3 linked regions of the Homo sapiens genome follow. The protein of the gene in region 3 purifies or fractionates together with the protein of the main gene of each other region. This does not show direct contact. Each region holds a gene or a part of one and is shown on either strand. Other genes may lie near its edges. The genes, in order: CAD, GLUD1 and STK33.

Region 1 (3,653 bases), on a different chromosome or scaffold from region 3:
CCTCTTTCACAGTTTCCAGAAAGATATCGAAAAGCAGTTCCATATCTGAAGGGCCAGCTTGGTGCTCTGGGTGAAACTGGACACTATTGAAGAGATTGCATCATGAAAACCATCATGGTCCCTGGCATGACACTGGCAGCCTCGAGGTGGGTAGTGGGACAGGGGACTCGGATCCACTGCCGTGCTTTACTTTTCCATCATCAAGGCCCACAGGGCTTCAAATTTTCACAGACCCAGTCAACCAGGCTCACCTGAAGAAAGGCAAGCTGTTGTGCACAATGCCTTCATTGGAACCATCATTGGCGTTGGTGAAGAGAGGAGCCCAGTCTGCTGGCAGTGAGTCTGTCTCCACAGCAAACCCATGGTTCTGGGATGTCAGAAAGCAGCGCCCAGAGCCCACCAACAAGCAGGGCTGGTTATGGCCTCGGTTCCCATATCTGGAGGTAGAAGCATGCCGAGTCACAGGCCCTGCTCACCCTCTCTTCACTACTGAACCTACCCCAGCTCTCACCGATCTCCTGTTCTCAGTAGCCTCACTCCTGTTTCCTTTTTGTTTTTTTTTTTTTTTTGAGACGGAGTCTCCCTCTGTTTCCCGGGCTGGAGGGCAATGGCACGATCTCCGCTCACTGCAACCTCCACCTCCCAGGTTCAAGCGATTCTCCTGCCTCAGCCTCTGGAGTAGCTGGGATTACAGGCGCACGCCACCATGGCTGGCCAACTTTTGTATTTTTAGTAGAGACAGAGTTTCACCATGTTGGCCAGGCTGGTCTCGAACTCCTGACCTCCAGTGATCCGCCCACCTTGGCCTCCCAAAGTGCTGGGATTACAGGTGGGAGCCACCTCACCTGCAACCCCCCCGCTCCTATTTCAACACGAATAAACACCAACTCTCTTCTCATTCCTGAGACACCCCACCCCTCATGCCACAAGTATGGGCCCCTTCTGCTCCCCACAAGTCCCACCTCATCTTGTAAGTCTTGGCCCCAATGGCTAAGGCCAATAGCTGGTGTCCCAGGCAGATCCCAAAGACAGGTCGGGGATTAGGCTCAGATAAAACACGGCTCAGTGTGGATACGACACTGGGATAGGAGGCAGGGTCACCAGGCCCATTACTTAAGAAGAGACCCTCATACTCTGGAGTGGGCAGAAAAGATGACATCAAAATCAGTATTTCAATTACAGGAGACACACCTGCAGCCCCCCCAGCCCATGAGAGTGTTAAGTCCCAATGTCTATCTTCTTCACTGCAACTCCTACTGACTTTTAGCAATTGGACCAAGGGATAGATCTTCCACCCAAGCTGCTTGTCTGAGGCCCTGAACAGGCCCCAGCTACTCACCTTGGCTGTCTAGTGCATGGTCCCAGGGTACCACAGTGACCTCAGCCCCACGCTGGCAGAGGCATCGGATCTGATTATACTTGAGGCCACAGTCCAAAGCAAGGATCCGAGGGGCACCCCCTGTATTGAATACCCGTGGAGTCTGAGAAATAGACGAATAAAGGGCAACAGTTGGCAGCTGTGCTCAGTGGGTATAAGATATGCCTGCACCAACTCCTACCTTCAAAGCCTCCTTTGATTCTCTCCTGTGTTCACCCCCCAATTGTGGGCAGAATATAACTACTGTGCTAGAGCTTGCAACACTCTCCCACTCTACCTCTGTACCTTAATGGAGACCTCTGGTACCAGGGGGCGGGCATTGGGGTCCAAGAATGGCAGGGATGAAGGTTCTGTTCCATTCTGGACCAGCTTCCCCAGCAGAGACCCCTGTTCCCGCAACTTCTTGGTCAGCTCCCGAGTGTCTACTCCTGTCAAAATAGCACAGTCTTAGGGATCACATTCCTACAACTCAGTCATCTGTGAGGTTAGACTTCCAGAAGCACTTCCATTCCAGAGCCCCAGTCACACACAGCTGTTCTATGTGCATCAAAATCCTGGGCCATTGTGACAGAAGTATACTACCATGAAGTATTCCTGCCAAAAATATCACATCTGAATTGAACAACTCTAAATCTATCCATTTATAGAAAATAATATAAAGGGAAAAAAAGAATACGCTAAGTAACACTACAGGAGTGTAACCAAGTAAGTGCAGACTATGGGATACTAGATACAGGAAAAATGACCTGTTTTCAAATAGGTTACAAGGTCCACAGATTAAGAGACTTATCAACCAAATGCAATGTGTGAACCCTGTTTAGAGCAAGATTCAAATGAACAGAAAAAAAAAAAAAAAAAAAAAAAAAAATTGGGAAATTTTAAACATTGCCTGGACACTTGTATTAGGGAATTATTAATTTTTTTAGTGTATGACGTTATTATGATCATGTTTTTTAAAGATTCCTTTTGCATAGATATTGAACTATTTGTAGATGAAATGATATGATGTCTGAGATTTGCATCAAAATAATCCAGTGGTGGTGATGAAATAAGATTAGCCCTAAGCTGATGATTATGGAAGGTGGGAGTTCCTTCCTGTGTTGGAAATTTTCTTTCTGAGTGATAGTTCAATTCTTTCTCCCAGCCCAACTCCAATCTAAACCTTCCAACTATCACAATCTTAGAGTCAGGTCCCAGCAGATTACAGAAACCTTGATTCTTTCCATCCAGGCATGCTGTGCTCTGCCCAAATATGCCCCTGCTTGCCACCATACCTTGCAAGCCAGGGATGCCATGCTGCTGCAGCCACTCATGCAGGGTGCGGGTGGCACTCCAGTGGCTGGGAGTAGGACAGCACTCTCCCACTACCAGTGCTGCTACGTGGATGCCCGAGGATTCAAACCACTGTAGATGGAAAGAGATTGTGAGAAGCCTCAGGCCAAGTTATTTCTTTGCAGCATTTTCCCGATTGTGTGGCCACAGACCCTATATTCAGCCACATTGAATGGCCTTCAATATACCAAACTTTTGGTGCTTTTGCATAGGTATTTCCATTTACCAACAACGCTCTCTCCTATACGAAACACAACCCACAGGCCCAGGGTGCCCCGATGATCACTGAAAATGACATTTTCCTTTTTATTTATTTATTATTTATTTTTTTTGAGACAGAGTCTCACTCTGTCACCCAGGCTGCAATGCAGTGGCGACATCTAAGCTCACTGCAACCTCTGCCTCCCGGATTCAAGCAATTCTCTTGCTTTAGCCTCCCGAGTAGCTGGGACTACAGGCGCCCGCCACCACACCCGGCTAATTTTTTGTATTTTTAGTAGAGACGGGGTTTCACCATGTTAGCCAGGATGGTCTCAGATCTCCTGACCTTGTGATCTGCCCACCTCAGCCTCCCAAAGTGCTGGGATTACAGGAGTGAGCCATCGCACCTAGCCATTCCTTTTTTTTTTTTTTGAGACAGGGTCTTGCTGTTATCCAGGCTGGAGTGCAGAGTACAGTGGCACAAATACACGGTTCACTACAGCCTCAATCTCCTGGGCTCAAGTGATTCTCCCACCTCAGACTCCTGAGTAGTTGGGACCACAGGTGTGGATCATCACACCTGGCTAATTTTTTGAATTTTTTGTAGTGACAGCGTCTCACCATGTTGCCAGGCTGCTCTCAAACTTCCTGGGCTCAAGCGATCCCCCCACCTCAGCCTTCCAAAGTGCTGGGATTACAAGTCATGAGCTACCGCGCCCCGCCTCTTTCTTCCTTTATCTAA
Region 2 (3,653 bases), on a different chromosome or scaffold from region 3:
CATCCAAAACAAAATCACAAGGTATTAGTTATTAGGCTTATGAGTTTTCTACTCCATACAAAACTAATGTATAGGGATGCACAGATTACAAGTAGTTCCTGAGGCCGGGTGCGGTGCTCATGCCTGTAATCCTAGCACTTTGGGAGGCCGAGGTGAGTGGATCACAAGGTCAGGAGATCGAGACCATCCTGGCTAACACAGTGAAACCCTGTCTCTACTAAAAATACAAAAAATTAGCCGGGCGTGGTGGCGGGCGCCTGTAGTCCCAGCTTCTTGGGAGGCTGAGGCAGGAGAATGGCGTGAACCCGGGAGGCGGAGCTTGCAGTGAGCTGAGATCGTGCCACTACACTCCAGCCTGGGTGACACAGCAAGACTCTGTCTCAAAACAAAAACAAAAACAAAAAACAAGTAGTTCCTGAATAACAGATATATTCTTTTTGTTTTTTTTTAATTTTTATGTTTTGAGAAGGAGTTACACTCTTGCTGCCCAGGCTGGAGTACAATGGCATGATCTCGGCTCACTGCAACCTCCGCCTTCCAGGTTCAAGCAATTCTCCTGCCTCAGCCTCCTGAGTAGCTGGGATTACAGGTACCTGCCTGGCTAATTTTTTTTTATTTTTAGTAGAGACGGGGTTTTACCATGTTGGCCAGGCTGGTCTCGAACTCCTGACCTCAGGTGATCCACCCGCCTCAGCCTCCCAAAGTGCTGGGATTACAGGCATGAGCCACCATGCTTGGCCTAACAGATAAATTCTTATATAGAGAACAGGTATGAGGCAGAAGTTAATCTTTTTTAAAAAAGCAACTTTTCTAACAGCATGTGACTATAGAGTAGGAGATGAAAGGGTAATTTTGGTACACAGAGATATAAGGGGATGAGAAGGGTGGAGACATCAGGGTCCTGCAGAACTTAGGTGATATTTACACTCACACAAGAGAATGAACATTGACCTTTCAAAAGCTTTTCCAAAAGCAGAAGAGGAAGGAACACTCCTCAACTCATTCCATGAGGCTAGAATTGTCCTGATACAAAGACTAGACAAAGACATCATAAGAAAACTATAGACCAATGTCACTTACAATAGCATTAAAAGGAGTAAAATATTTAGTTGTAAGACTTCTATGTAAGACTTCTACAATGAGAACTACAAAACATCATTGAAAGAAATCAAGAGACCTAAATAAATGGAAAGACATCTCATATTCAGCATTGGAAGGCTTAATATGGTTAAGATGGCAATACTGGTCAGGTGCAGTGGCTCATGCCTATAATCCCAGAATTTTGGGAAGCTGAGGTGGGAAGACTGCTTGAGCTCAGGAGTTTGAGACCAGTCTGGGATACGTGATGAGACCGTGTCTCCACAAAAAATTAAAAAATTAGCTAGGCACAGTTGCACACCCCTGTGGTTCTAGCTACTTGGGAGGGTGAGGTGAGAGGATTGCTTGAGCCCAGGAGGTCAAGGTTGCAGTGACTGCTGTCTGGTACTCCAGCCTGGGTGAAAGGACAAAACCTTTTTGGGGAGGGTGGGGAAGATGGCAATACTCCACAAATTAGTGTACAGATTCAATGAAATTCCTATAAAAATCCCAGCCTCTTTTTTTCTTTTGTTTTGCAGAAATTTACAAGCTGATGCTAAACACACATGTGACAGGATCAGGGTTCAGGCTCAGGTCTGAGCCTCAATCTGACACTCTCTGTGGAATGGGCAGTCAGGAAATAACAGATAAATAACATCAAATTTGAAGGTTTGCCGAGGAGTGAGAGAAAAAACTCCCTTTGCCTACCTCCTAGGCTTCAAAGCTTTCTGGGCCAAGACGTCAATTTAACTGCATCCTGGGTCAATGAGGCTTTTGCACATTAAGCAAATAAATCAAATTACTAGAGTTTAAGCTGTGTTTTCTTTCAGTATTCCAATGAATCACTTTTTGACCTTTGGAATTATTAGGTACTTGTCAAGTCTGATAAAATTAAGCTGGAGATATTGCAGATATGGGTGACAAATATGACTGAATAAAGTCTGAAACCATTCAAGACTATAAAATGTGTTTGAGATTTAGGGGAAGAGGAAAGACCTTTTAAAAATTATGAAGGCTATTAACAGGCTGAAGATGACTTCAATTCACCATATCTCAGAATCAGTAGGCACTCCTATAAAAGTGTGAGCGAGATAGTTAACTCATATTAACTTACGTTAACAGACTCCATGTAAGGATGCACAAGTTCACAGTAGTGCTGGGTATGCGGCACATCAAAGGCCCAAATGCCTTTTATTATCAAAGACAGGCCAAATCTAGTCAAGTTTTAGAGTTACCTATACTTACTGTATTTCTATATTAGGTTATTTCATGACATTTATTTCATGACTTTTTTTTCCTAAAAATGAATCCGAATAGCTTTATTTCATTTCTCTTTCTTCTTGAGATGTGGTCTCGTTTTGTTGCTCAGGCCAGAGTGTGGCAGGCCAGAGTGCAGTGGCACAATCATAGCTCACTGCAGCCTCAACCCCCCAGGCTTAAGGGATCCTCCCATCTTAGTAGTTGGGACCACAGGCATGCACCATCACGCTTGGATAATGTTTTCATTTTTTGTAGAGATGGGGTCTTGTAATATTGCCCAGGGTGGTCTCGAACTTCTGGGCTCAAGTGATCCTCCCACCTCAGCCTCCAAAAATGCTGGGATTACAAGCACCAGCCACCATGCCCAGCCTTTATAGTTTAATTTCATGGGAACTTGTGGGGGAAATGCTAAGAAAGGAAAGTAGAGAAAAATACACTTTATTTTCTATTTAAGTAGACCTTATTTTGTTTAACTATACTGATATTGATAGGACAAGTATTCTATTATTAAGTAACAATTAACATTCTTTTTTTTTTTTTTTTTTTTTTTTTTGAGACGGAGTCTCGCTCTGTTGCCCAGGCTGGGGTGTAGTGGCGTGATCTTGGCTCACTGGAAGCTCTGCTTCCCAGGTTCACACCATTCTCCTGTCTCAGCCTCCTGAGTAGCTGGGACTACAGGCACTCGCGACCACGCCTGGCAAATTTTTTGTGTTTTTAGTAGAGATGGGATTCCTACTAAACCCCGTTAGCCAGAATGGTCTCGATCTGACCTCGTGATCCACCTGCCTCGGCCTCTCAAAGTGCTGGGATTACAGGTGTGAGCCACCACGCTCGGCAGTAAGTATTAACATTCTATTAACTATACTGATAGGGCAAGCATTCTATTAAGTAGTTATGCATATTCTATTCAAACAAATTAGAAGCCTTCTAGATTAAAAAAAATATAGGTTTAAACTGCTTGAAAATTAAAGGGTACATGACAAATACTTACATATCATAAAAAGAATATTCAGATTGTGCACAAAGAAAATATAAACACAGATAATAGTAAGATACAAAAACATCAAGCAAACAAAGATTAATATCTTCAGAAATGTTGTATGTTTGGCAAAAGCTCCTATAACAAATAGTAGGAGGCCGGGCACAGTGGCTCCTATCTGTAATACCAGCAGTTTGGGAGTCCGAGATGGGTGGATCACCTGATGTCAGGAGTTCAAGCCCAGCCTGACCAACATGGCAAAGCCCCATCTCCAGTAAAAATACAAAAATCAGCTGGGTGTGGTGGCACATGCCTGTAATCTCAGCTACTTGGGAGG
Region 3 (3,653 bases):
AAAATAAAAATGAGTGGGTGCTATTTTTCCCTGAGTCTAAAATAGGTATGGCAGCATTTTACTTAACTAGGACCATTGGCAGCTGCATGGTGGCAAGTTGGAAAGATCTCAGTTGAGGAGGAAGAAAAATACACTCTGCAGTACATATAAAGGAGTACTTTGAGAAACTTCCAGAAGTAATTGGGAGTACATTATTATGGTTTTATGCTATACCATTTCAGACAGTCTTTAAAAGTAGATTCTGTAGTCATAGATTGATAAACCTGGGGATATATGCAATATACTGTTATCCTTTGAACTGGAATAAACTTGACTAGAATAGGAAATTAAATATATTTATTTCATTAAAGAAATACCTGGTTTTCTAATCAGAAAGCTGTGCTTTTATCAAATCCTTATCTATTGTGATTGGCAGGAAAATCTGCCAGGCTCATACGATTTTATAAAAGATATTGCTAGTAGTTTACCTAAAAGTTGTCCTCTCATTCTTTCTTACTAACAGAATCCTGATCTTCTTTGGGGCAGCAATGTGCTCATTAACATCCTACATTTCCGGGCTTCTCTTTTAGATTAGGGGTAGCCATGTGACTTATGGCCATTAAGCTTAACAGAATGCAGGCAAAGCTGCACTTAAAAGAAAATTTATATTCTTAAACCTTTATTAAAATCAGAGGAGAAAGGATAAAAATATACTAAGTGTGCAGTCAAATCTAAAAGATAGAAAAACATAATTAAAGAGTAAGCTTAAGAAACAGAAATGACAAAGAAATTTTGTTGAATTTTGCCTATACGGTCCCAAATAAACGTACTCTTCACTACCTCTCAGCTTTCATATCTCCTTTCTCTCAGATACAGTAGCCTCTTGCTGCTCCTCTAATATGCCAAGTATACTCCCTTCTCAAGGCTTTGCCCTTCTGCTTCCTCTGCCTGGGATGCTCTTCCCTCAAACATTCACACGGTCTGCTCCCATGCTTCACTGTGGCTTCTGCTCATTTGAAAGGCTTTCCTAACCACCTCATCTAAAACAACAAGCCCATGCCCTCTCCCCCCTTACCTTGCTTTGTTTTTCTTCATGCCACTTATCATTTCACTCAGGAAGTTTCATAGCAGAGTCCTCTCCTACTTTTATTGAACAGATGATTCTTATATAAATGGTTTCAGAGCATGCAAAGCCATCCGGTTCATTTTATTCACTTAAAATAACCAAAATCTGACCATAGTAGTATTCCCCAAAAGGGGGATTTACAGGTCAGTCTCATTTGTAAATAGATTTTAAAATCCTAAATGCTGTACTTACATTTACCCCAGGTAATGTATATAGTATATTATAAGATTATTAAATAGAATAGATAAGTCTGCCCAATAAATATGACCTTTCATCAAAGTGGTGGGAAAAAAATTTCTATTGTGATTAAAACTCATAATGGAGAGTATGAGGACAGGTACATTAAAAGTGCCCTCCAGACAGGCAGAGGAAGAAAAGAATGCAACTGATGCCACTCAAAATACACACACACACACACACACACACACACACACACACATACACATCTCTTATAAACACTTAACCTGGTTTTTCAAGAATATGTAGCAAGACAAAGAAAATTCAGAATGTACCTGTATCACTTTCCAAAATGATTTAACTTCAGGCCTAGAAGAAAATGTTTTGCATTTCAGGTTAAATATAAAACCCATAACCATCAATGACTCAGAGCAGTGGAGTAGATCTGCAAATGATAGGCTTTCTGTTTGGGAAAAATAGTGCTTTCTCTCTGAGGTGTAGAGAAGTCCCATGTCAGATGTGTAAAACATCATTTTTTGCATACATTAAGAATATTGATTTTATGGTACTTTTTATAAGAAATTGTAAGAAGTATTCGTAACGTACAGGTTTATTTAACTGCAGCTGAGTTCTTTCATGATAAACAGTACTCCTAAAAGCATACTTACCATATCCTTCAAGGTTTACAAATATATATATTCACAAATTTTCAATGGAATCTTTAAATATTAAAATTTTCATTTTAAGATAGATTTTGGGGGATCTAAAAACAGCTATTCTTTTCTTAGCTTTGTTCAGAAAGCATTTCCTTTAATTTTCATCAATTTTTCAATAAGTCATTATCATATCACTGACATTGTCACAGACTTCTGAGTACTTTCTCGCTCCAGTCTTCTAATTTATCAGTTGCCTTAGAAGTACTTGGTAGCTATATGCATAAAGCATAGGATTTCTTTCTATTACTCACTGAGAAGTTTCATTTTTGCTCTCCAGTCTACCAAGTGCTATATTTGCCAAAATAATGTTCTACTTTCTTACCACAGCAATTCTAAAACAACAGGTTGAATAGCTGCATGCAAAATTTCTTGACAAGAATTAGATTTCAAATTTAACTTCTTTTTGGCTGGCTGAATTCTAATTATTTTAGTTTAAACAAAAACCAAGATAGAACAAATGTTTACTCACATTTATTTCTTTCTCATTTACGAATTGATCTGAAAGATTTGTTACTAAAACAAATCTACTATTTCACAGGACAAATGATGTCACTCATATTTTAGAGGCTTAAAATTAATCAAGTATTGCAAACTTATGTAAACACAAAGATTAATAGCTCTTTTTCTATAGAATCATGGAATTATGTTTAAACAGGACTTTAGATATAAAAATATGTATTACAAAAACCAAAGAATCTTCTAATACAATAATGTTTCTTTGTGTCTCCAAAGATTGGACATACATAGGTACTGGACATAATATAAGCAAATAAAATAAGTTCAAATTATGTCAGTACTTAACTAATACATGAGCCTTCCTTTGGCTTAAGGTTTTCATTTTATTTTTAGAACTAAGGCAAGTCAATAAAACAATTCTGATAATGAAAATCCCTGGGCTTTAATTTAATCATAAAAAGGTCTTTTACATATTGGCCCTAGAAGATACACTTACAGCAATTTCCTCAAGAAAATGAACACAAGAATGGTTTTATAAGATATAACTAGCTATAATTTTCTTCTCCAAAAGCAATTTTTTTAGTTTTCTTTGCTAAGACTGTGTCTACAAGAAACCTAAATAGTCAATTCAGTCAAAATGTGTTTTATTCAAGTAAAGGGGAAAAAAAAAAAAACTTACGAATTGTCTGACATTCTGCAGACCAAGCCAAATGACTGACTGCTTTAGTAACATGTTTACAAAGCCTAAAGAAGGGCCCAGTGAGTTTTCTAGATGATATTGCTATATTTTAAGGAAGACTAGCACTTGTTTATTCTTTTCATTAAGGGCATGATTAGGAAAATGAGTCTGTATTGTCTTATAAAAGGATTTACAGTATATTTAAAATTCACATTATTTCAGAATTTTTTTAAATGTTTGAGTGATGTTTACTATTAACTTTTCCTTTCTATTTTAATTTGCATGATGTTCCTCACTGATTAAGCAGTAATACGGAAGGACAGTCTTAAATGTGGCCCCTATACTGACAGTTAAAAGCGAGAACAGAGGCCGGGTGCGGTGGCTCACGCCTGTAATCCCAGCACTTTGGCAGGCTGAGGCGGGTGGATCACAAGGTCAGATCGAGACCATCCTGGCCAACATCCTGACCAACCTGGGGTTTTAGTAGAGAAACCCCATCTCTACTAAAAATACAAAAATT

What was found.
Region 1: the proteins of STK33 (region 3) and CAD purify together in Homo sapiens (affinity purification with mass spectrometry; one large-scale study listed by BioGRID and IntAct). This does not show direct contact.
Region 2: the proteins of STK33 (region 3) and GLUD1 purify together in Homo sapiens (affinity purification with mass spectrometry; one large-scale study listed by BioGRID and IntAct). This does not show direct contact.

The regions. Positions count from the first base shown.
Region 1 is NC_000002.12:27,220,347-27,223,999, reverse strand, and holds part of CAD (multifunctional protein CAD), read right to left. Parts: intron 2,783-3,653; coding exon 2,653-2,782; intron 1,807-2,652; coding exon 1,664-1,806; intron 1,482-1,663; coding exon 1,340-1,481; intron 1,135-1,339; coding exon 963-1,134; intron 438-962; coding exon 252-437; intron 84-251; coding exon 1-83. UniProt on the Homo sapiens protein: Multifunctional protein that encodes the first 3 enzymatic activities of the de novo pyrimidine pathway: carbamoylphosphate synthetase (CPSase; EC 6.3.5.5), aspartate transcarbamylase (ATCase; EC 2.1.3.2) and dihydroorotase (DHOase; EC 3.5.2.3).
Region 2 is NC_000010.11:87,070,747-87,074,399, forward strand, and holds part of GLUD1 (glutamate dehydrogenase 1, mitochondrial isoform a precursor), read right to left. Parts: intron 1-3,653. UniProt on the Homo sapiens protein: Mitochondrial glutamate dehydrogenase that catalyzes the conversion of L-glutamate into alpha-ketoglutarate. Plays a key role in glutamine anaplerosis by producing alpha-ketoglutarate, an important intermediate in the tricarboxylic acid cycle.
Region 3 is NC_000011.10:8,475,633-8,479,285, forward strand, and holds part of STK33 (serine/threonine-protein kinase 33), read right to left. Parts: exon of another isoform or gene 1,652-3,653; 5' UTR 1,618-1,651; exon of another isoform or gene 1,120-1,617; 5' UTR 1,055-1,119; intron 1,041-1,054; exon of another isoform or gene 468-1,040; intron 1-467. UniProt on the Homo sapiens protein: Serine/threonine protein kinase required for spermatid differentiation and male fertility. Promotes sperm flagella assembly during spermatogenesis by mediating phosphorylation of fibrous sheath proteins AKAP3 and AKAP4.